2 separate regions of the Homo sapiens genome follow, and region 2 is linked to region 1. Evidence: fine-mapped expression QTL. A gene starts in region 1. The other region holds a variant in brackets. All regions are shown on one strand. Distances are from middle to middle. Region 1 holds the start of GANC (glucosidase alpha, neutral C). Region 2 overlaps CAPN3 (calpain 3).

Evidence for each region. PIP is the estimated chance that this variant, and not a neighbour inherited with it, causes the effect.
Region 2: its variant is fine-mapped to the expression of GANC in whole blood (TOPMed, PIP 0.96).

Annotation. Positions count from the first base shown.
Region 1 is chr15:42,260,911-42,277,334 of GRCh38, reverse strand. GANC (glucosidase alpha, neutral C) reads right to left here and starts at 4,134. Exons shown (of 24, transcript NM_198141.3): 1 at 2,825-4,134; 2 at 925-987. The coding sequence starts at 2,853. It overlaps TMEM87A (transmembrane protein 87A), which reads left to right and starts at 3,902. Exons shown (of 20, transcript NM_015497.5): 1 at 3,902-4,080; 2 at 5,212-5,272; 3 at 9,303-9,388; 4 at 13,132-13,245; 5 at 16,086-16,139; 6 at 16,333-16,377. The coding sequence starts at 3,937. RefSeq lists enhancers at 2,741-3,940, 3,913-4,142, 4,303-4,552.
Region 2 is chr15:42,394,825-42,403,927 of GRCh38, reverse strand. It overlaps CAPN3 (calpain 3), which reads right to left. Exons shown (of 24, transcript NM_000070.3): 9 at 7,051-7,128; 10 at 4,276-4,436; 11 at 2,118-2,287; 12 at 1,793-1,804; 13 at 926-1,134; 14 at 151-187. Among named protein-coding and RNA genes, the nearest start is that of CAPN3, 40 kb to the right of the region's middle. RefSeq lists enhancers at 2,245-2,294, 2,665-2,744. The variant G/C (reference allele first, on the strand shown) is at 4,462.

The DNA of each region.
Region 1 (16,424 bases):
GGTCTCAAACTCCCAACCTCAGGTGATCCGCCTGCCTTGGCCTCCCGAAGTGCTGGGATTACAGGTGTGAGCCACCTCGCCCAGCCAGGCAATCTTATATAATGTTGATAGGAGTACAAATGGTATAATTCCTATGGAGGGAAATCTGGTAATAGTTAACACATTTCAAATGCATTTACTCTTTGACCCAGTAATCTCACTCCTAGAAAGGTATCCTATAAATACACCTGCATGTGTAGAAAATGACCTATGTATAGCTCTTCATTGTGGTAGTGCTATTTTAGCAAAAGATTAAAAACAACCCAAGGGTCTAGCAATAAGAGACAGACTGAATAAATTATATTAATAGTATATCTACCCCATGGAATATTATGCAGCTGTAAAAAGGAGAAACAATCTCCATGCACTCATATGAATTTCTCCTCAGAACAAACTATAAAGCAGGAAAAAAAACCTATTTGGTATAAAAAGGGGTGATTAAAAAAAGAGAAAAGCAATAATATAAAAATACATGTATTTACAAAAAAATACTGGAAGGATAAATAAGAAATGAAGAAATTCGGTTATTCGGGACAAGATGAGGAATGGGTAGAAGGGGACAGGAGTGGAAGCAACATTTTTCAATGTATAGCTCTTTATATTATTTTTGAACCATGTAAAAGTGTTATCTATTCAAAGCGTCAAAATTTAAAACTAGTTTAAAAATATTTTGGCTTTTAAAATAAAATAGCTGTTTATTGAAAAATTTAAATACTTCAGGAGTAAATGTATAAAGTTAAAAGTGAGTCTCCTGTCTGATGATTTCCTTAATTATTAAATTATCCTTTCCTTGGAAAGTCTATCAGTTCCAAAAATTTAATAAGCATCAATTTTGAAATACTGTCAGAGATGTTTTGATCTAGCTACTATATTTATTTTCCTTACCTGTAAAATGCGATCTTGTTACAGTCTCTGAAAATGTTTTTATCTACAGCTTCATCTTCAAGACTAAATAAAAAGACATTTTGAGAAATTTATTTCACACAGGGCTTGTGAATCCAACTTTTGTACCTTCTCTAACGACAGTATGAACATGCAAAATAAACCTTTGGAGTCTATTCTGCAATGCAAAATTGTGTCACGGCCACAGTATAACATAATAGCACATTATGTTGCAGAACAATAGCCTTTTGTAAACCCTCTGAGGTAAACAACAAAACATCAGGTTCTGGGATTACTCCAAAAGTAATGGGAAAAGATCACTGTCACTTATGAGGACATATTCTTTTGAAATAATGACTGAAGGCTATGACCACAAAAGTAAAATCTGAAGGAGGAAAACCAAAACAGCATCCCAAAACGAACAAACCAAAACCAACCAACCAGACAAACTAAGAACCATAACCCACCCACCGATTTATTCAAGAAAATATTTTCAGAATATTCTTCCTGAGAGCTGGGCTCTGAGGAAGATATGAACTGTGTTCAAGCTATCAGTTAGGGTTTTACCAGCAATCACAATACAAGCTGACAAATGCTTTAATAGAGGTGCAAGGTGCTAGAATAAGAACAGAACAGACGTAGAAGGGGAATTTCTTGCTTTTTAAGATGAGGTGACAAACTAGGGGCCATGTTTTTTAAAACCAAGTTTCCAGAAGAGCTGTTTCTGGGATAAAACATGAATGAGATATATGTATATTGAAGTTTGAGTATATGTATTTAAACTAGCCTCCATCTGATTAAAACAACTACAGATTATAAGGAGAAAAAAAAATTACACCGGCTTTCATGCACTAGTGTGGCCGAATGCATCTGTAGTCAGCATGTCCATGATTATGTAGAAAGCTATGACTGAACACAAACGTCGAAATATTATGAAAACAAGCCCAGGCAGATATACTTGGCCATACTAAAAAACTGTTTGTCCTTCACTGAACTCAGTCTTTGTCCGTTTATTTTAATTTATTAAAAAAATTTTTTTTGAGACAGGATCTCGCTCTGCCTCCTACGTTGGAGTGAAGTGGCACGATCTTGGCTTGCTGCAACTGCCGCCTCCTGGGCTCAGGCTATCTTCCTGCCTCAGCCTCCTGAGTAGCTGGGACTACAGGCCCACATCACCACGTCTGGCTAACTTTAAAATTTTTGTAGAGACAGGGATTCAGCATGTTGCCCAGGCTGGTCTGAACTCCTGGGTTCAAGCAATCTGCCCACCTATAGGCCTCCCAAAGTGCTGGGATTACAGGCATGAGCGAACCGGCCCAGTTTATTTTAATCAAGTGTACAAAGATTGGAGAATCTTTTGTTTCCTCTTTACAGCTTCGAAGAATTAACTCTGGGATGATATAGGAAGGGGTGATTATAGATGAATTTGGAAAGCAACATGCCTGAAATTCACGTGTTAAGAGTTCTGATTGCAACTTTTCCACTGTTAATGTTATTTAACCATCCTTTTTTTTTGGAGACAGGGTCTCACTTTGTTGCCCAAGCAGTGGCAAGATCACAGCTCCACTGCAGCCTCCAAATCCATCCTCCCAGTGGTCTCCCAAGTAGCTGGGACTCCGAGGGGGCGGGGAGGGGGTCTCGAACTCCTGAACTCAAGCGATCCTCCCACCTTAGCCTCCCAAAGTGCTGTGGGATTACCTGCGTGAGCCACTGCACCCGGCCTATTTAACCATCCTGAAAGTATTTTATGAGAGGCTATTAATATCAACTAACTTCCCGCGAATTGAGAGAAAAGATAAAGGTCAGCAAATACCAAATACGCAAATAAGAAATGCAATTAAAACACTATTCCCTGTTTCTAGGGACCCTGGGGTCACTCGCTACAGAAGCACTTGGCCTTTACCTTATTTCCTCTTTCACTGCTGCTTCCATGGCTTCTCTGTCACTCCGACCAGCTCCCAGCTCTCAGGACAAGGGCCCTGGGCGATCTTTTAAAAAAGCCGATTGGGTGTCTTTCTAAAATTACAACCAGTACTTCATCGTCAAGTTTCTGGGAAGGGAGTCCCCTCCAGATTCTCATGGAGTGACAAATCTTGACTCTTGCTCCTGGAATTTTTCAGGCCCAAACTAGCGTTTCTACAATGATTTATTTGGCAAATTTGTCTTGATTATGGGTGGCTGATGAGGAACGTGCTTTTGTTAGGAACCGAAACTGGGCGGCGGTGAGGGCGTGTACGCAATGAGTCCTAGAGGGTAAAAATCAAGAGCGTTAAGAACCTGGAAATGCCGAGACGGCCTCCCTGACTGGGACGAAGCATCTGCAGATCTATCTCAGTGGCGGGGTCACGCCACAGATTTTGAAAACTGACCCTCTCTGTCTCCGTTTTCGGTTAAGGGTGGGAAGTGCCGGCCGGGTCTTTGCTGGAGGCTAGGTCTCCAGCCAGATTGTACTGCAGCATCGTACTCTTCAGGGCTAGAAGGGGCCTTTGAAGGTTGTTACACTACCCAGTCTAGGAATCGCGTGTACTCCACCACCGCCGAATTCCAGCCTTTGCTTAAATACCACCCAAACCGGAGAACTCACTACTAGACGCCACTTGGGCAGCCAGGCTTAGGGCTTTTCCAGACTTTCTGGCCCCAAAGTCTGACATTGACTTAGAAGGGATGAAGGGCTGGGGCGAGCGGAAGTAGAGAGCCAAATCCTGCACGGGGTGCCTGCCTGGTCCTAAAACCTTTAACGGCTGGGAGACAGAAAAGACTCAGGCCAGGCTGGCATGTAGCGATCTCTCTAACCCAGCTGACCAGGTTCCAACAGGATGACGCCTGCGCAGTAGGTCCAAAGTCTCACGGCGCACAGACGACTGTCTGAGAGAGGGGCCGCTACGCCGCACAGCAAACAAGCTCCGCGACGTTTCCAGGACCCGGATAATCCCGCCCTTAGAGCAGAGCCGGAAGAAGGCGGGACGAACCGGAAGAGGGTGAAATGCTTTCGGTAGGCACTCCACGGCTGTGAAGATGGCGGCGGCTGCGTGGCTTCAGGTGTTGCCTGTCATTCTTCTGCTTCTGGGAGCTCACCCGTCACCACTGTCGTTTTTCAGTGCGGGACCGGCAACCGTAGCTGCTGCCGACCGGTCCAAATGGCACATTCCGATACCGTCGGTGAGTATTCACTTCACTAACGTCTGAACCTAGAGGAGCAAGGGGTGGGGCTACGGCGGCCCAAGGGGTCCATGAAGGTTCCGCAAAAGTCTCTTCAAAAGGGGTGGGGTTGCTGGGATGGTCTGTGTGGCTAGCCAACTGGGACCCACCTCCCTGGAGTGGAAAGCCGCGCACTTCTGTGATTAGGCTAGCGGGAATGTAAGGGCCACTTCAGCAACAGAAAGGAGTGGTGGAGCGGCTTCTCATCAGAAAAACAGAACTTTCAGTGCCTGACTTGAGATGTAAACTTGATGTACAAACGGAGAGTTGTTTATCTTTCAGATGTTTCACAGAATCCAGTGTCCCCGGGTTGGATAAGAAAGATATGTAAATAGGAGTCTTCATTTCTTTCTTTCTTTTTCTTCCTCTGCACTTCTTGGTCCCTGGGTAATTCTGCTTACGAGATGGTTCGACTTCGCTTCAACTTTGGAATGGCTATTCTAAGCTTTACTGTGTGACTAGAAAGCATAGAGATTTAAGAAATGTGTTTTAACATGGGAATGGTTAAAATTGAAGAAATAGTACTTAAAATTTAATGTGGTAAGGCTAGTCTTTCATTTGGATAATTAACTACATGGGTTGACCCTTTCTGCCCCTTACCCATTTTAAACCTTATTTCAGTAACAGGTATAGTCCTGTGAGCAGACAAAAACCAGATGCAGGGAGGAAATGCTGAAAAGCATTAGCCCCATTAAACCTACGTTGGCCTTTTTGTTTCATTCTGCTCTGCTCACTGACTGTAATGTCCAAATCTTATTTGGGCTTTTATTATGGTAAACGTTATACCTTTTGTTCAGTGGTGAAGATTTTCAGGTGTTCAGTTAGGTTTTTACTTGTTACTAAAATGGTTAATAGTTAAGTCTTTTTAGATTTGAAAATAAAACTCTGGTTATTTGCACACAGAATAGTTCATTAGAAAAAATGATTGGTTATTCTGAGCAGTGATTGGTGAGTAAAGGGAATGAACTGATTAAGGGGTACGTCCCATAAAGATTTAAGTTAAGTTGGAATTTCTAGCAGTCTTAGATAGTTATATGATGCTTTGGTAATTGAAGCCATCTGAGGCTAATTATCTTTCCTTTATGTTTGCAGGGGAAAAATTATTTTAGTTTTGGAAAGATCCTCTTCAGAAATACCACTATCTTCCTGAAGTGTGAGTTTTTGAATTTCATGAAGTTTTAATTTGAATTTTAAAAATTTATAGGTAATGTTTTAAATTACCTATTTTATAAGTTCTGAAATCTAATAGTCTGGCATTATCTAGGTATAAATATTTTTAGTATTACTAAGGTCCTTTTACTGAATCATCTTCAAAGTACTCGTGTGAACTTTATTTTCTTCTCTTGTTTTTCTGGTGTTTACATTGCATATATACACTATGTAGACATTATATATTAGTATATATAATGTATATATTAATATATATGCTGTATATACTACATTGAATATTCAGTCACATCTCAGTCGAATTACATTTACAGTTGATACTTTCTGAGAAAAGCATCCTTAGGTGATTTTGTCATTATGCAAACATCATAGAGTATACTTAAAACTGGATGGCACTACACGCCTAGTTTGTATGGTACAGCCTATTGCTCCTAGGCTATAAACCTGTATAACATGTTACTGTACTGAATGCTATAGGTGGTTGTAACACAATGGTAAGTTTTTGTATATCTAAACATAGGAAAGTAGAGTACAAATACGATATTACAATTTTATGGGACCCCCGTTGTATATGTAGTCTTTCATTTACTGAAATGTTATGTAGTGAATGACTGTGATTATGTTGGGGTTGATTCCCTGCATGGTGGTTTTAATCTGTTCTGTGTAGATTAAAGAGGTTTTACTCTTGTGTGCTTGTTAAATGTTTACTGCAAACATGACCTAGGTTTGTCAGGCCGTTGGCTGTGAAGGAATATATTTAGTAGATCCTTTATTTACAAAAGGAGTATTTTACTGCTTTGGAAGAGGAAGCTCAGATATTATCAAGAAATAGGGATTATGTAGAACAAAACTAGTTTGTCTAGTGGAAAAATGACTGTATCTGAATCTAAAGTATCCCATTGTGTGTTCAGTAAAAGCTTCCTTTTAGTTCTGAAACCGGCTTTAATTTAGAGAACGATTGATCGTGGGCAGCTTTATTTCTAGATGAGGGATAAAAATCCTGATGATAGATGTGTGATTCTATGCATACTGTCTTCACGGAAGTGCAAAATTTTAAGTCATAGTTGGATAATTTTATTCTTTTCAATTGTTTAGTGAGTAATTATTACTTATTGCATAGACTGTGGGGAAGTAATAGAAAAATGTTCTTCCCTCATCGAGCTTACATTCTAGTGGGAGTGAAAACAGCAGGTAGAATTTCTCTGAAGAATATATACTGTATCCATGAATATGTAATCAGTCTCCTGACCAGTGACTTATATTTGATTTAGATCAAATCTACTCTGACACTGGCCTTGTGAGATTGGTTTACTGGGTAACCTAGTAACCCTTGTCTTTTGGAATAGCTTGACAGCCTGTTTGCTGTTTTATTCTTTTATTAGGTCCAGTCTTTTTTTCTCGTGTAGTTTGATCTAGTGGTGTTTTGCCAAGTTAAACCAACTGCATTTTTTTTAAGATGGTGTCTCACTCTGTCACCCAGACTGGAGTGCAGTGGTACGATCTTGGCTTACTGCAACCTCCACCTCCCAGGTTCAAGCGATTCTCCTGCCTCAGCCTCCCGAGTAGCTGGGATTACAGGCATGAGTCTCTATGCCCAGCCCTAACTGCGTATTTTGAAGTGTTTATATTTCATTGTTTTTGGAGGATTTGAGGCACTTTATTTTTTGTTGTTGTTTTTTGAGACGGAGTTTTGCTGTGACGCCCAGGCTGGAATGCAGTGGCACGATCTCGGCTCACTGTAACCTCTGCTTCCTGGGTTCAAGCGATTCTTCTGCCTCAGCCTCCCGAGTAGCTGGGACTATAGGCGCGTGCCACCACGCCGGCTAATTTTTGTATTTTTAGCAGAGGTGGGGGTTTCACCATATTGGCCAGGCTGGTCTCGAACTCCCGACCTCAAGTTATCTGCCTGCCTTGGCCTCCCACAGTTCTGGGATTACAGGTGTGAGCCACCGTGCCCGGCCTGAGACACTTTAACATTATCTTTTTCTTTGTTATTTCTGTGCTTTCTCATATTTACCAGTTGTCTTTGATTTTGTACTTTTTGGGGGATGGTATATAGCTTTCCATGGAATAGCTGGGACCATTTTTTTTTTTTTTTTTTTTTTTGAGACGGAGTCTCGCTCTGTCGCCCAGGCCGGACTGCGGATTGCAGTGGCGCAATCTCGGCTCACTGCAAGCTCCGCTTCCCAGGTTCACGCCATTCTCCTGCCTCAGCCTCCCGAGTAGCTGGGACTACAGGCGCCCGCCACCGCGCCCGGCTAATTTTTTGTATTTTTAGTAGAGACGGGGTTTCACCTTGTTAGCCAGGATGGTCTCGATCTCCTGACCTCATGATCCACCCGCCTCGGCCTCCCAAAGTGCTGGGATTACAGGCGTGAGCCACCGCGCCCGACCTTATTGTCTCTTAAAGCCTTTCATTTAAAGTTCTAAATATTGTCTTGTAACATAAACAGCAGTATTTTTGCTGCCAAATTTCCTTACAAGTCTCCTGTTTGGGGGATGTGTTCTTACTGGCTTTTTATTAGTTAATCCTGTCCCTGTATGGATTATTTTGAATAGTTCATAGCCCAATTGCTTTTTATCATTTCCATAAATTCTATCCAACAGGTCAAATTTTTGAACATTCTAATAGAGTCCTTTGAAAATGTGTTGGTCATCTAAAAATTAGTTTGAGAAAACAGTTTAAAAGAAAAAAAAAGGAAGCTTATAATTAGGTTGCTTCTTTTGTTATGAATGAAAAGTAGATTCCTAAATGCAGTCATGTTTATTTTTGTCATGTTTATTATTACATTTATATAAAGTAGGGAGTCTTTAGTATATTTTTCCTTTCATAGCTAGAATCAAAGATAAAAGCGAATACTGACTTCCTCCAGCTAATCAGTCATATAGTCAGATTTACCCTCCCAAGTCTTCAGAATAATGTCTTGATCCATTAGAATACTGTGTTCCAAACTGTGTTTAATGAGCTTTATGAAGCTTCCATGATAACATGAGCTTCCTTGAGGCCTCTTTTAAGGTAGGCTTTGAAAAAAAAAATCTGATACTCTTATCTTTGCTTTTGCTATTTCTACCTTCCACAGCCATGTTTGCTTTTCGTTCATTGCTCTTTCTGTTCTATCTTGATATCTTTCAAGGTCTGAGATAGCAATTTTGCTCTCAGTGGAACTATTATGTATATCATCATTTAACACCATTTAACAGTTGTTAATATTGCCTTGTGACATGCATTCCTAATTTTATTATTGCTTGTCTCTTCAACTAGCCTTTTGAAGGGTCTTAATAATTTGTTTCCACTCGTTTCCCTCTTTAGCCTAACAGTGTGCCATTATACCTTTGTAATACTTGTGCTATTTATTTATTTATTTATTTATTTATGTTTTTTGAGACAGGGTCTCGCTCTGTCGCCCAGGCTGGAGTGCAGTGGTACCATCATGGCTCACTGCAGACTTGACCTCCTGGGCTCAAGTGATCCTCCTGCCTCCCTTGCCTGAGTAGCTGGGACTACAAGCATGTACCACCACGCCTAGCTTTTTAATCATTTTTTGTAGAGATGAGTTCTCACTATGTTGCCTAGGGTGGTCTTGAGCTCCTGGGCTCAAGCGATCCCCCTGCCTTGGCCTCCCAAACTTCTGGGGTTATAGGTGTGAGCTACCGCACCTAGCCTGCTCAATAAATACTTAAATAATAGAAGACTGGCTTGAATTTAGAGTGCTTTATCACTCCCAGGTTTTTCTCAATAGAGATCCAGAAGTTAGGACTTTATGGCATAAAAATAGATCCACAGTTTCCAGAGGTTAAAAACTGCTTACCTGCTATTTTTCTATGAACAACAATACTTTTATCTTAATATCCAGCTCTTTTTGCATGTATTATTTCAATACCTTATGTTTGGAGAAAGGATGGTCTTTGAGTATCTCAGTTTAGGGTACGAAATGAATAGGATATAGGTTAACAGCTTAGGAAAAATGCTTTGTTGGGGAATTATCTTTTGTTAACAAAGATTTCTTCTTTTGTAGTTGATGGAGAACCTTGTGACCTGTCTTTGAATATAACCTGGTATCTGAAAAGCGCTGATTGTTACAATGAAATCTATAACTTCAAGGTAAGGAACATAAAATTACAGAGTTTTTTTGGACCTTAGTGATTATCTGGTTCCAGTCTCTTAATTTCATAGAGGAAAGAGTATCATGTAGCTATGGAGGAGGAGAGCTGAAACTAGAATGCATGCTTCCCAATTTGCAGACCACCAATTCTCAAACTTTTTGGTTTCAGAACTCTTATATTTGTAAAAATTATTGTGGACTCCAGAAAGCCTTTGAGCATGTGGGTTATGCTATTAGAAATTACAACTGAGAAAATATAAAAATATTTATTAGTTTATTTTAAAGTAGCAATAATAAACTTATTGCATGTTAATATAAATAACTGTTTTTCCCAGAAAACCACACAGAAGAGTAGGATTGTTTTGTATTTTTGTAAATTTGTTTACTATCTGGCATAACAGAAGATCACTGTATTCTTATATTCCCTCCTTCACTCAGTCTGTTGCAATAATTTGGCTTAAGTACATGTAGAAAATAATGACCTCATACAGATATATAGTTGGGAAAAGGAATGGTATTTTAATGGCCTTTTCAGATAACTGAGGATATTCTTTTTTGATTCTATACCAAAACTCAACAAGTGGAAGTTTTTAAAGGTTAGTTGCAATGTGGAATCTGAAATATTAATGAACTTTTTTTGTACTCTGATAAGAAATCCACTGATATGAATGTATCTTTTACCTGTGTGTGATCTTGTAGCATCATTTATTGGTCATTTAGAAAATAGCAGTTGACTGAATTATATACATTTTTATAAATATTAACTCATTTCACACTTAGCTAAAAATTACATTGTTTATAACTATACCCTGCCCTCTTCATCTCATCAGTAGGTTCTTAAGTTTTGGAAGCCGTTAAATTCAGTGTAGCAGATACAAGTTCTTCAAAATTCCAGTTTTTGCTTGAAATCTCAAATTTTATTTTGGCAGTGAATACTGTCAGTTGTCTTCCTTGAGGGGACAGCCTCTGTTGCCCATTTCCAGAGAAATAACTCTCAAATAACCAAGTCTGAGTAATGGTAGTTTTTCAGTCATTCTTTCAAGTAAATATGGTGTTTCGTGGAAAAAATGATTAGTTTAACTCACAAGTCAAAGCAATTGCAGAGTGCTTTATCTCAAGACAATAATTTATTGTATTTTGCATGCTTTCCATTTTGTCACCTAGATTATTTAAAAAGTCAGGTACTCAAAAGGTCCAGATTTAATAACATTAATAATTTTTACTGCTTTATCTAGGATATTCTTACATAAAAGTGGCATTTTTAAAAACTGCCAGTTTGTGACTATGAAGAATATGACTGCTAGTAGAATTAAATGCCACTGCCTTAGTTCCTGATAAGGGGCAACAGTTTTACCCACTATTGCTTTTGTAATATCGTTACAAGTCAAATAGCATACTATTATTATTATGAAAATAGTTTTTTTTTTTTTGAGATGGAGTCTCACTCTGTCACCCAGGCTGGAGTGCAGTGGCGCGATCTCAGCTCACCACAACCTCTGCCTCCTGGGTTCAAGTGATTGTCCAGCCTCAGCCTCCCAAGTAGCTGGGATTACAGGTGTCTGCCACCACACCCGGCTAATTTTTGTATTTTTAGTAAAGATGGGGTTTTGCCATGTTGGCCAGGCTGGTCTCAAACTCCTGACCTCAGGTGATCCACCTGCCTCAGTCTCCCAAAGTGCTGGGATTACAGGCGTGAGCCATTGTGCCCAGCCATGAAAATAGTTTTGTCTATGGTTCAACGGCCACACTTTTGAGAATTGCCATAATCTAGAATACTTGAGCGTTGAAAATATATTGCTCAAAGAATAAAGCTGGAAGCATCACATTACCTGACTTCAAACTGTACTACAGGGCTACAGTAACCAAAACAGACACAAAGACCAATGAAACAGAGAAGACAGCCCAGAAATAAGGCCGCACACCTACAACCATCTGATATTTAACAAAGCTGACAAAAAACAAGCAATGGGGAAAGGACTCCCTATTTAGTAGATAGTGTTGCGGTAGCGTGCTGGCCATATGCAGATTGAAACTGGACCCCTTCCTCACACCATATTCAAAAATCAACTCAAGATAGATTAAAGACTTAAATGTAAAACCCAAAACTATAAAAACCCTGGAAGACAACCTAGGCAATACCATTCTGGACATGGGAAGTGGCAAAGATTTCATGATGAAGATGCCAAAAGCAATTGCGCCAAAAGCAATTGCAACAAAAGCAAAAATTGACAAATGGGATCTAATTAAGTTTAAGAGCTTCTGCACAGCAAAAGAAACTATCAATAGAGTAGACAGCCTACAGAATGGGAGAAAATATTTGCAAACTATGCATCCAACAAAGGTCTAATATCCAGCCTCTATAAGGAACTTAAACAAATTTATATGCAAAAAACAACCCCATAGAAAAGTGGGTAAAGGACATGAACAGACACTTTTCAAAAGAAGATATACAGCCAACAAGCATATGAAAAAAAAAAAGCTCAGTATCGTTGATTATTAGAGAAATGCAAATCAAAACCACAATGAGATACCATCTCACATCAGAATGGCTATTATGAGAAAGTCAAAGGATAATAGATGCTGGCAAGGTTGTGGAGAAAAGGGAATGCTTATACATTGTTAGTGGGAGTGTAAATTAGTTCAACCACTGTGGAAAGCACTGTGGCAATTCCTCAAAGAGCTAAAAACAGAATTACCATTTGACCCAGCAATCCCATTACTGGGTATATATCCAAAGTAATATAAATCATTCTACCGTAAAGACATATGCACATATATGTTCACTGCAGCACTGTTTACAATAGCAAAGACATGGAATCAACCTAAATGCCCATCAATGGTAAACTGGATAAATGTGGTACATATGCGGCCATAAAAAAGAATGTGATACATATGCAACCATAAAAAAGAATGAGATCATTTCCTTTGCAAGAACACAGAAGGAGCTGGAGGCCATTAACCTTAGCAAACTAACACAGGAACAGAAAGCGAAATACCACGTTTTCACTTATAAGTGGGAGCTGAATGATGAGAACACATGATCACAAAGAGGGGAACGGCAGACACTGGGCCTACTTGAGGGTGGAGGGTGGGAGGAGGGAGAGGATCAGAAAAAATAACTCTTGAGTACTAGGCAGTACCTGGGTGATGAAATAATCTGTAAAACAGTTCCCTGTGAGTTCAGTTTACCTATATAACAAAGTTGCGTATGTATACCGGAACCTAAAATAAAAGTTAAAAAAAAAATATATATATATATATACACACACATATATATAGTTCTGAGTTGAATTTTTCAGACCTTTTCCATTCTGTTTCTATCTCTCAATTTGCATTTTTAAGAAGATTATCCTAGTTCTGTGCTTGCAACAATTTTCTGCTCTATCTTAGCTTATGAGCATGAATATTTTTTTGTTGATGTTGTTAATTTGGTCAAGTAAATCTTTTAAGTATATTTTAATGTGACAAAACCCTCTACACTCTGGCAGTTTCCCAGTCTACTCAGAATTGTTAGTAGAACTATGCCTTGTGAGCCAAAGACTAGAGTCTAATAGTCCTTGAGTCTGATAGTGTTTGATTCTTAGATATTTTTATATAGAGCCTTTATCTGATGCTGTTCATTTTTAAAATAGCAAACTCAAAATTGTATCTGTACTGCAGGTGAACTGTTTGTTGTGCTGTGCTCTTAGTATCTTATTTTTTGGAAGGTGAGTTAACTACTCTGTATTATCTCTTTTTCCAGGCAGAAGAAGTAGAGTTGTATTTGGAAAAACTTAAGGAAAAAAGAGGCTTGTCTGGGAAATATCAAACATCATCAAAATTGTTCCAGAACTGCAGTGAACTCTTTAAAACACAGGTAATCTTTGAAAGTGATTGGAGATAAATAGAATAGGCAAAAATTGGAATGTATATATTTTTGGCTGTATCCACTTCCGACTTCTCAAGTATTTCTTTTGGCAGAAGTAAGTGGAAGCATGTTCTGATAGGTACATAGTCAGCCACTTATACATACTCATCAAAGAGAGGTTGTACTTTGCTTTGTGTGTAAAAAGCAAACCCCCATTTTTTTATTGTGGTAAAATATACACTACATAAAATTTACCATTTTAACCATTTCTAAGTGTATAATACAGTGGCATTAAATATATTCACATTGCTGTGCAGCCATCGACCCATCTCCAGTACTTTTTTTTTCCCCAAGGCAGATTCTTGCTCTGTCCGCCAGGCTGGAGTGCAGTGGCACAATCTCGGCTCACTGCAGTCTCCATCACCCGGATCTAAGCAATTCTTTCACCTCAGCCTCCCAAGTGGCTAGGGCTACAGATTCACACCATTACGCCTGGCTAATTTTTTTTGTATTTTCTGTAGAGACAGGATTTCACCATGTTAGCCAGGCTGGTCTTGAACTCTTGACCTGAAGTGATCCACCCACCTTGGCCTCCCAAAATGCTGGGATTACAGGTGTGAGCCACCGGGCTGAGCCCCATCTCTAGTACTTTTATCATCCCAAACTGAAACATCATACCTATTAAACAAAAATTCCCCACCTTCCAACCCCAAGACCATGGTAACCACTCTTCTACTTTCCATGAATTTGACTATTCTAGATACCTCATATAAATAGAATCATACAACTTTTGTTCTTTTTTGTCTGACTTCTTCCACTTAGCATAATGTTTTTAAGGTTCATCCATGTTATAGCGTTATCAGAATTTCATTCCTTTTTAAGGCTAAGTGATGTTCTATTGTATGTATGTACCACATTTTGTTTTTCCATTCATCTGTTGATGGACATTTAAAACGTCACATTTTTAATTCTTTGGTCTCCTCATCTAATTAATATGTTCCCAGAAAAATCAGGGTTTTTAAAATTTACTTCTATAGATCTGAAATCAGAAGGGTATCATCATTGTCTTAGAGTTCAATTTCACACCTTAATTTTGTAGAAAGAGGGAGATGTGAATAATCATACATTTTTCGTGCTTACACATATGCAATCATGTAAGTGGAGATTCTGATATCAAATTTTGTTGTCTTAGAAATAGTAATCTCAGTTTTTTGATAGAAAAATTTTATATGTGTTGAAAATAGTTATAGTAATTATCATCTATACTTGTCCTTACTATATTTAAAAATTATTTTGGAATATTTAGCAACTTGCCTTGAACTGTCAAATTACTAGAAGTAAAGTTTATTATTAAGAAGACAAATTTAGTCATTGGTAATTGAGGCCAGATGCGGTGGCTCAGGCCTGTAATCCCAGCACTTTGGGAGGCCGAGGTGGGCGGATCACCTGAGGTCAGGAGTTCAAGACCAGCCTGGCCAACATGGTGAAACCCTGTCTCTACAAAAAAATTAGCCGGGCATGGTGGCGGGTACCTGTAATCCCAGCTACTCGGGAGGCTGAAGTGGGAGAATCACTTGAACCCAGGAGGCTGAGATAGTGTCAGTGCACTCCAGCCTGGGCGACAAGAGTGAAACTTGGTCTCAAAAAAAAAAAAAAAAAAGGGATAATTGATGAGCAGATGAATTAATTGGTAATTGAAGGAAGAGTTCCGCTTTTATTATAACTTAGATTTTATGGTCTTGGAGGGAAAAGAAAATAGCTTTAAGATGGTGAAAGAATGGTAGAGAAAGCTAGAAGCAATGTGATGTTGTGTAGTTTGTATGTTTTCTGTTGGTTTTCCAAATTTATCCCTTAGACTAGGAGGATTGGTTGGTCTTTTCTTGGATTTGATTATGGAAAGCTACCTGATGCATCTGGTTGCTGGAGGCTGACTACTTTTAGATGTGCTGTAATCTTTCCAGGGTCTTGGCTTATTGGTAAGGTTTCCTCTCCTCCTCCAGTCTAATGTAACAGGGTTGAATTACACAGTCTCATTACTCAGGAAGGACAATGCCTCATCTACTGATAACTGGTAAGAAAGATAATTAGTGTAGTTTTTTACAGGCATAAAAAATGTAGTATGGTGGAAGGGACAGCAGACCTAAGCATCAAGAATATTAGGTTTAGGCCGGGCGCGGTGGCTCACGCCTGTAGTCCCAGCACTTCGGGAGGCCGATGTGGGCGGATCATGAGGTCAGGAGATTGAGACCATCCTGGCTAACACGGTGAAACCCTGTCTCTACTAAAAATACAAAAAAATTAGCCAGGCATGGTGGCGGGCACCTGTAGTCCCAGCTATTCGGGAGGCTGAGGCAGGAGAATGGCATGAACCTGGGAGGCGGAGCTTGCAGTGAGCCGAGATAACACCACTGCACTCCAGTCTGTGCAACAGAGCAAGACTCCGTCTCAAAAAAAAAAAAAAGAATATTAGGTTTAAATCCTATTTCTTTGTCTAAAGCTTTGTAGTTTTGAGCCACATTTTACTCATCTGTAGAATGAGGGGAAATGATCTAAGCTTCTTCTATCCTAAGCATACATCCTATATCTAAAGCTTTGTCATTCTTAAATGTTTATTATTCTGATAGAAAAATTGAATGGCCATTTTGGTTTGATACTATTTTCTAGTTCCCAGCAGGGTTTTATTCACTTGTTTGTGGTTAATTGGAAATGTTTTGTCTACTGATGCTGTGTTATTATATTTACTAGTTAGGGTGTGGTGTTTTGTTCTAACCATTTCTTTGTATTTTGAGCTACACTTTTCTTCTAGTATTTACACACCTTTAATGTTTTGTTTTGTGTTTCTTTTATAGACCTTTTCTGGAGATTTTATGCATCGACTGCCTCTTTTAGGAGAAAAACAGGAGGTAATTGTTTTCATTATATATTTCTGAGAGTGCAGTAAAAACTTTGGTGGTGCAGGAGATACCCGTGCTCACTGCATCTCTAAGGAGGGAGTGCTGCACCTGGGGAGCAGGCTTCCCCAGTGGCTACAGGAACTTGGGCAGCTAAAAACAAGAAGTTCTGAATTAATTATTATTATTTTTTTAATGTTTAAAGGCTAAGGAGAATGGAACAAACCTTACCTTTATTGGAGACAAAACCGTAAGTATATTTGGGGATTTGGGGCATTGAACACATATTTTAGTTTT
Region 2 (9,103 bases), 130 kb before region 1:
GGATTTGCAGTGCCAAGGAGGGACTGCTCAGCACAGCCCAGACTCCCATTCCCTCTGCCAGTGCCCATTCTCCCCTGCACCATCTGTCCCCTGCATGGTCAGGGAAGGGGACCCTCTGGACTTTTCGCACAGAAGATCTAAACCACTCACCACTGGCCGATCCACGGAGATGGTATTTTCAACTTCCCTGTGAGGAATACAGACATGTGGGGTCTCAGTGTCACCAGAAGCAAGCAGGAGGCCCGTGGACGGTTTGCTCTGGTGCACGGCTTCCTGGCAGCCAAGCCAGAACCAGCCTCTAGAGAACCCCTGGAACACCCCAACCCCAGGAACCAGCCCCATGTCAGCACCATCCCCGACAGCCAAGCCCAGGCACGCAGGTTCTTGTTAGTATTGCTCAGAGCCCCCCAAAGGCATGACCCAGCCACCTACCCATGGACCTGGTGCATCTTCCAAGGACAGAGATCAGAGTGGCAGGGGCTATGAGCTCATCTGTGGTGGCCAGGGACAGGATGTGGCTTTCCTGGCCATGCTAACCTAAAATTTCAAGCATCCCCAACACCTCCTATCCCTCTTCCCTACTTTATTTTTGCTCCATATCACCTCTCCAAATCTAACATGCTACATATGTTTTTCCTATCCATTATTGTCTCATGTTAGAATATTAAGCTCCATGAAGGCAGGGATTTCTTTCTGTTTACTTCACTACTCTATCCTTAGTGCCTAGGACAGTGCCTGGAACATAGTAGGTGCTCAATAAATATCACAGAATGGATGAATGAATGAATGGGGGTAATGTGGCCAGTGGCTCAGGAGCAGCAGAAGGACCCTGGAGGAGACGTGTCTAGCTGCCTCATGCCTTCAACCTCTGGAGTGGGCCATGTGAGCTTTTAGAAACACGTGGGAAAGCTGGGCCAGCACTCACTCAGAGAGGTTCCTCTTTTCAGAGAAGACCCGGAGGATGAATTCCCCCTCCTGGTGGGGCTCGTAGGTGGAGGGCACGATGACGTACTCGCTGGGAGGCAGGCGGAAGCGCTGGGACACCTCCCGCATGTTGATGTAGGTTTTGCTCCTGGCCTTGGAGGCGTTGTACAGGAAGAAGTCCTTCTGCAGGTGCTGCTTGTTCCCGTGCATCTGAGAGATGGGGAGAGCCCAGGGCACATGAGCCCCTCGGGAGGAACATCCTGTCCTGCCACAGCCACCTCCAAGGGTCCCTTCCCAACTCCCTGGTCACCCATGTCACAGTTTCAACCTCCCTACTTCCGACTCCCAAGGCTTAAATAGCCTCCCTACCTCACTTCCTCTTCCTTTTCTGTTGTGATTCAGAGTGAATGGCAAATGTGTCATCCCCACACTCAGGGACACTTACCAGAACAGCTGCTCCTCAGCTCCGAAGCCCCTCAGGCTGGAAGGACCCCCAAGGAGGCCTAGAGGACTTGGCTGGGTTCTGAGGGAAGTGATTCCTCCATCCCAAGCGGGCAGCCACCCTCAGAACGCGTCTGTGTGACTGTGTGTGTGGCTGTAAGCGTGGAGGAGGGTGAGTGTGCAAAGGCATGTGTGTGACGTGCAGTGTCTGGTGCGAGGGAGAAAGTGCACATCCTGGGGGTGGTAGTCATGGGTCATGCAATGCCCTGAGGCACCTGCTCTGCAGTGGAAATAACACAGGCAAGGCCCTCTCCTATCACAGTCCTGCCCACAAACCCCACCAGGAAGCTTCTCGACGAGCCACAGACAGACTCGGGGCCCCCTGGGTAGTGCTGCACACAACTGCTGGCCGCTGCTGCTGCTATACCTCTTTGGGAACCTTGAGAAGAAACAGAAAGGAAGATGCTTCAGATGTGAATGAGGATGAGGAGCCTGCGGAAGGCAATGCCAGCAACTGCAGCCCGCATGCGGAAGCCTGACCCCCAGGCACCTGTTCTGCCAGGCCCGCTCCACTGCCTCTCTAATGCCCCCCCTGGTATTTTTTGCTTGTTACAAACACAAGTGGTCCTGATACCAGGAGCTCTGTGGGTCACTGGGTATTGAGGAAGCCAGAGGGCCCCTCTAGAAGCCCCTGGAAGCGTCCTCCCTGGGAAAGTATGTTTCCTGGGCTGGAGCCAATCAGGACTGCACACCTCGTAGATGGCGAAGCCAATGGTGAAGAGACTGGCCCCTAGCTTCCGGTCCTTCCGCCGGTTCTTCTGCATCAGGGCCACCAGGAAGCTGCAAATCACCTCCGAGTCATCAGGGTCATCGTCCTCCTCCAGGAGCTTCAGACGGTACTGAGGGTTGGTCCAGAAAGTATCTGCACCCCCAGAAAGGAAGCACGCATTCACAGCTGCCTCTCAGAGGGCAGGAAGGGGATGAGACAGAGGGAGCCATTTATTTCTATTCCCTACATCTAGGTGCTTAGGAAATATCAACAGAAAACACGATTCAGGCATTTCTCTAATGATTTGGGGGGGGGGGGGGCGCTACCTTTATTCAGATGGAGCTGTACTGATTGTATGTGTGGCTTTTCCTTCCTCTCTGGGCTTTCATTCTCAGTCTTTGCTGATGGTTTTGTTTTCCTTACCTGCCCCTTAAACGCTGTTGGTGACTAGAATCTGGTCCTGGGCCTCTTCTCCTCTCACCTCACCCTTCCTGCCTCCCTAGGCAATCTTTCTTACTTCTGCTTTTTAACTGCCCCCTACACGCGCATGATGCCTGAGCCATATATCCCAGCCTCAATCTCTCTCACTTTTTTTTTTTTGAGACGGAGTCTGGCTCTGTTGCCCAGGCTAGAGTGCAGTGGCGCGATCTCGGCTCACTGCAGCCTCCGCCTCCTGGGTTCAAGCGATTCTTCTGACTGAGCCTCCCAAGTAGCTGGGATTACAGGCACCCACCATCATCCCCGGTTAATTTTTGTATCTTTAGTAGAGATGGGTTTTCACCATGTTAGCCAAGCTGGTCTCGAACTCCTGACCACAAGTGATCCGCCTGCCTCAGCCTCCCAAAGTGCTGGGATTACAGGCATAAGCCACCACGTCTGGCCTCTTCTTTCCTTTATTCCTCAAATATTTTTTGAGTTCTTATCATATCACCAAGTGCCATCTAATATGCGCATCCGATGCTCTATTACAAATCTTCACTGGGACACTCTACAGGAACCTCAAACTTTCCATGTCCCAAGCTAAATTCCTTTCCCTAGAACCCCACAATTAACTCCACCAAAAACAAACAACACGCTGATATTTTTCTCTTGTGTGTCTTTTTTTTTTGAGGCAGGGTCTCACTCTGTCACCCAGGCAGGAGTGCAGTGGCATGATCACAGTTTATTGTAGCCTCAACCTCCCGAGCTCAAGCAATCCTCCCACCTCATTTTTTTTTTTATTTTTTGTAACGATGAGGTGTCACTATGTTGCCTGTGCTGGTCTTGAACTCCTGGGCTCAAGTGATCCTCCTGGCTCTGCCTCCCAAAGTGCTGGGATTATAGGCATGAGCCACCCACCCGATCTTCTTGTGTGTCTTATGTTGCAATGTTGTCAGGTCCCCAACTGGGAATCTTGACATCATTCTTCTTCCTTCCCTACATCACCCAATATGCTCTCCCTAAATCTGCTGTCTCCCCTCCATCTCTGCTGCTACTGACTTGGTCTAGGTTTTCATCATCTCTGACTTGAACTATTGCAGCAGCTGCTAACTTGGTTCTCCAATAGTGCCCTTACTGTTACTGACACAGTACTCACAGTCCCTGACTTAGGATGGTTCGGCTACAATTTTTTAACTTTACAATGTGAAAGAGATGCACATTCAGTAGAAACTGGATTTCGAGTACCCGTACAACCATTCTGTTTTTCACTTTTAGTACAGTATTAAGTAAGTTACATGAGATATTCAACACTTTCTTGTAAAATAGGCTTTGAGTTAGATGATTTTGCCCAACTTTAGGCTAAGGTCAGTGTTCCGAGCATGTTTAAGGTAGGCCAGGCTAAGCTATGATGTTTGGTGGGTTAGGCATATTGAATGCACTTTTCACTTAGGGTATTTTCAAAGATGGATGGGCTTATCTGGACATAACCTCATCGTAAGTCAAGCAGCATCTGCATTGTTCCCACAGTTTCCTGCTTCAAAGTTGCTACCAGCTCCCTATTGCAAACTTCTCAGCATGGTGGTTTCCTTCTCAGTAAAACAGGGAAGGTTTAATAAGATAGTGGACGTCTGGAACAGAGAGACTTAATAAGCACTAGTTAGGCTTCTTCTGCCTGGAACTTTTTCGGCTTAGACCCTCCCCCCATCAAGAGCATCTCCCACCTGGGAAGTTGCGGCAGCCTCCGGCAGAGCAACCCCGTACCCAGCGGCCCTCGTTCACAGACACTGTCCAGGTCTGAAGCTTGTCAGACTGCAGAGCATCGGCCGTGAGGTTGCAGATCTCCAACTTTGTGAAATGGTAGATGAAATCCTCATAGGACATCCTGAGAGGTTGGAAGAAGAGAGAGA[G/C]CCATATGGGAGCAGGTGAGGAGGGCTGGGAACGGAAGACCCCAGGACTAACACAGCACAATAATAAAATAGTTCACAGGAACTTGGTCAGGGTCCCAGAGGAGCCTGTCTTTCCTTTTTAGGGCAAACGCTGTCACTTCTGATGTATCTACTCCAAACCATCATCTTTTCTAACAATGATTCAAAAATGTGCCAGGGCCAGAAAGATAAATGTCGCATGCTCTCACTCATATGTGAGAGCTAAAACAAAGCATATGTCATGGAAGTAGAGAGCAGACAGTGGTTACCAGAGGCTGGGAAGGGAAGGAGAGGGGAGGATGAAAAGAGGGTGGCTAATGGATACAAAAATACAGTTAGATAGAAGAAATAAGCTCTAGTGCTCACCAGGGTGCTGTGGCTCATGCCTGTAATCCCAGCACTTTGGGAGGCTGAGGCAGGTGGATCACCTGAGGCTAGGAGTTTGAGACCAGCTTGGCCAACATGGTGAAACCCCATCTCTACTGAAAATACAAAAATTAGCTGAGCATTATGGCGGGCACTTGTAATCCTAGTTACTTGGGAGGCTGAGGCAGGAGAATCACTTGAACCCAGGAGGCGGAGGTTGCAGTGAGCCGATATTGCGCCATTGTATGCCAGCCTGGGCGACAAAGTGAGACTCTGTCTCAAAAAAAAAAAAAAAAAAAAAAGCTCTAATGCTCAATAGCACAGTAAGACAAACATAGCTAAACAAGAATTTATAGTATAGTGTGTGTGTGTATATATACACACACACATATATATACAGACGTGTGTGTGTGTATATGTGTGTGTATATATATGTGTGTATATATATGTGTGTGTGTGTGTGTGTGTGTGTGTGTGTGTGTGTGTGTGTGTATTTTTTGAGACAGAGTCTCGCTCTGTTGCCCAGGCTAGAGTGCAGTGGCATGATCTTGGCTCACTGCAACCTCCACCTCCTGAGGTCAAGGGATTCTCCTGCCTCAGCCAGCTGAGCAGCTGGGATTACAGGTGCACACCACCACACCTGGCTAATTTTTGTATTTTTGTAGAGATGGGGTTTCACCATGTTGACCAGGCTAGTCTTGAACTTCTGACCTCAAGTGATCTGCCCGCCTCAGCCTCCCAAGGTGCTGGGATTACAGGCATAAGCCACCACGCCCAGCCTATATATCTTTCAAAATAACTAGAGGAAAAGAATTGTAATGTTCCCAACACAAAGAAAAGATACATATTTGAGATGATGGTATCTCAATTACCCTAATTTGATCATTACACATTGTATATGTGTATCAAAATATCATATGTACCCCCAAAATATGGGTACATATGTACCCCCAAAATATGGGTACATATGTACCCCAAAAATATATATAGCTATGATATATCCATAAAAAATAGAAGGCCAGGTGTGGTGGCTTACATCTGTAATCCCAGCACTTTTTTTTTAAGACAGTGTCTTGCTCTGTTGCCCAGGATGGACTGCAGTGGTACAATCATAGTTCACTGCAGCCTCAACCTCCTGGGCTCAAGTGACCCCCTGCTTCAGCCTCCCAAGTAGCTGGGACTACAGGCACACGCCACCACATCTGGCTAATTTTAAAATTTTTTGTAGAGTTGGGGTCCCATATGTTGACCAGGCCCACATGCCAGCATTTTGGGAGGCCAAGGTGGGAGGACCGCTTGAGCCCAGGAGTTTGAGACCAGCCCGAGAAATATAGCGAGGCCCGTCTCTATTATAGTTTTTAAATAAAAAATAAAGTAATAAAAACACAAAAAACCTTTCCCTTGACATTATACTAAGACAACATTTTTTTTTTTTTTTCCAAGACAGAGTCTCTCTTGTCGCCCAGGCTGGAGTGCAGTGGCGCAATCTGGGCTCACTGTAACCTCTGCCTCCCAGGTTCAAGTGATTCTCCTGCCTCAGCCTCCCCAGCAGCTAGGACTACAGGCGCACGCTGCCACGCCCGGCTACTTTTTTTGTGTATTTTTAGTACAGACAGGGTTTCACCGTGTTAGCCAAGATGTTCTCGATCTCCTGACCTCGTGATCCGTTCACCTCGGCCTCCCAAAGTGCTGGGATTACAGGCGTGAGCCACCGCGCCCGGCTTAAGCAAACAATTTTAAGGGTGATGAGCATCATAAATTAATCCCAGTCCTCGGGGAACTTAGGGGGCTCTCCTTAAGCTGAGACTTGAAAATTCTCCTTAAGCTGAGACTTGAAGCCTGAATAGAAACAACCTGAGAGAGGGTGAGGTTGACGTTGGAAGATCAGGGTAAGTGGAGCTTCCTAGGCTCAGAAAAGAATTGTGCTAAGGCCAGGGTGCCTGTGGCTGGAATAGAGTGTGTGGCGGAGGGGCACACAGGAGGCAAGAGCCATGTCATGTTGGCCTGGTCCTGGGCTCAGTTGTCCCTGTGGCCTGGAAGGCTCCTCTCAGAACCTCATCCTTGCTGGGCCTTGGGCTGGAGGAGAACACAGCCCAGATCTCCCAAGGGCTGGAATCTGATAACCTTAGCTGGGGACTGAGGTCTGAGATTTCCCCTCTCTTCCCCACCCTTACCCTTCTGGGTCTTCCTGGGTTCTGGACTCACCAGAACTCTCCATCCTCAGTGACCTGGTGCTGCAGACGGGCCTTCTCATCTTTGTCCACAAAGCTCCAGTCCTTCCATCTGGTGGGAAAATGGAGGAATTAAGGAAGCAGGAAGAAGGGAAGGCCTGATGTAGGTTGGGACAGGAGGTATCAGAGAAATACAAAGAGTTGCAGCTGCTGTGAACTACCAAAATGCTGACTTCACCTGTTAACCTCAGTGTGAAACCCAATAGCAATGACTTCTCACATCCTCAAGACTGAGCCTAAACTCCTTAAATGGGCTGGTGAGGGCTTGATCCTTCTTTTCATCATACTTTAAAGGTTAAGAATTGAGTTCTGGGCTGCTCGCAATGGCTCACACCTGTAATCCCAGCACTTTGGGAGGCCGAGGTGGGCGGATCACAAGGTCAGGATTTCGAGACCAGCCTGGCCAATATGGTGAAACCCCGTCCTAATAAAAATACAAAAATTAGCTGGGCGTGGTGGCGGGCACCTATAGTCTCAGCTACTCAGGAGGCTAAGGCAGAAGAATCACTTGAACCCGGGAGGCGGAGGTTGCAGTGAGCCAAGATCGCGCCATTGCACTCCAGCCTGGGTGGCAGAGTGAGACTCCGTCTCAAAAAAAAAAAAAAAAAAATGGGTTCTGGACATAGACAAACTGGGAGTTCCGTTTAATAATAGGGCTAGCTATGCAACCTTGGGCAGGTCACTTAACCTCTGTCAGACTCTGCTTCCTCAATTGCAAAAGGAAAATGATTATGTCACCTGTTCACAGGGCTGGGATGGGCAGATGCAATAATGCATGCAAAGCTGTTAGCATAGTGTCTGTCATATAATAAGAAACTCTGATTTACTAAGGAAAAAGGCCAAGTCTGTAAACATCTCCTTTCCTGTGCTGGGAAATAATCAAGCATTGTGCTTCTAAAGGCTGGGCAGTTTTCACACTCTCTCTCCTCACTATGGTGGCAATAAAGTGCATGTGTGTTTCAGGCTCACAGAGGAGAATTCAACTAAACTGGGTGCTCCCTGGAAAGGTAAGGGGTGGAGGAAGCGCTTGGAGTCAGTCAGAGAACACTGCAGGGGACATGGAGATTCCTGAGACCAGGAGGAGGGATGCAGCAAAGGGAATCTCCTTGAGTGAACAGCGTTGGGTCCACTTGTCTCCAGCCCCTGTGATGGCAGCATCATGGTAAGCAGGGCAGGGCTGCACACCAAGCTCTGAGGCTGGAGAACACAGCAAGCGTCCCTGCAGGTGACTTGGGCCAGTGAAGTAGACAACTGAGGAGTCACTGAGGGCCTTCCCAGAGCACAGAGCACAGTTCCAATGTCACTCCCTCCAGGTAACCTTTCTCTACGCCTCCCCTCCCACCCAAACTAGGTGCAGAGGCCCCCTCTTTGTGATCCTTACTGTGGCACTCATCTCAATTATTAGTGTGTGCTTGCCTGTCCTTCCCCGGACCTTAAACCCACAGGCACAGGGCCCACGTGTCTGTGTTCATTTCTACATTTCTACATCCCCAGGTGGGTAGCCTAGGGCCTGGCAGAAGTCAGCACTGAGGAAGTAAGGATAGGTGTAGCGTGCATAGGTGAAGGAAGGCATGAGAATGTCTGCAGGAGGCAGTCAGGACATGAGGATCAGCCCCTAATCACAGTGTATCAAGGGAGGCTATGGGTTCACAGAATATCCCCAGTGCCTTGACCTGTGCCTCCTATGTAGTAGGTGCCCAAGAAACATTTGCTAAACGAATGACTGAACGAACCAGTAATTACATGCTGGGCTAAGAAGTACCCAGCAGTATATAAGTACAGGAGCCGAGGGGCCCAGGCTGCCTGGGTGCGGTCCTTCTCCTCTACTGAGTCCTGCCATCCCCCTCTCGAAATAAGAGGCGCTTATGGCTCATTCAGTAATGAATTGCCTCTCATTCAGTGGAGGTAATCAGGAACCAGTAGGACCATGGAGGTTTTGCAAATGTGCTGGAGCCTTCATAATAACTTCGCATGTTTGTTATTTTTGTTGCCCCCAGTCTATTCCTTTCAATGATAAGCAGTAAAAT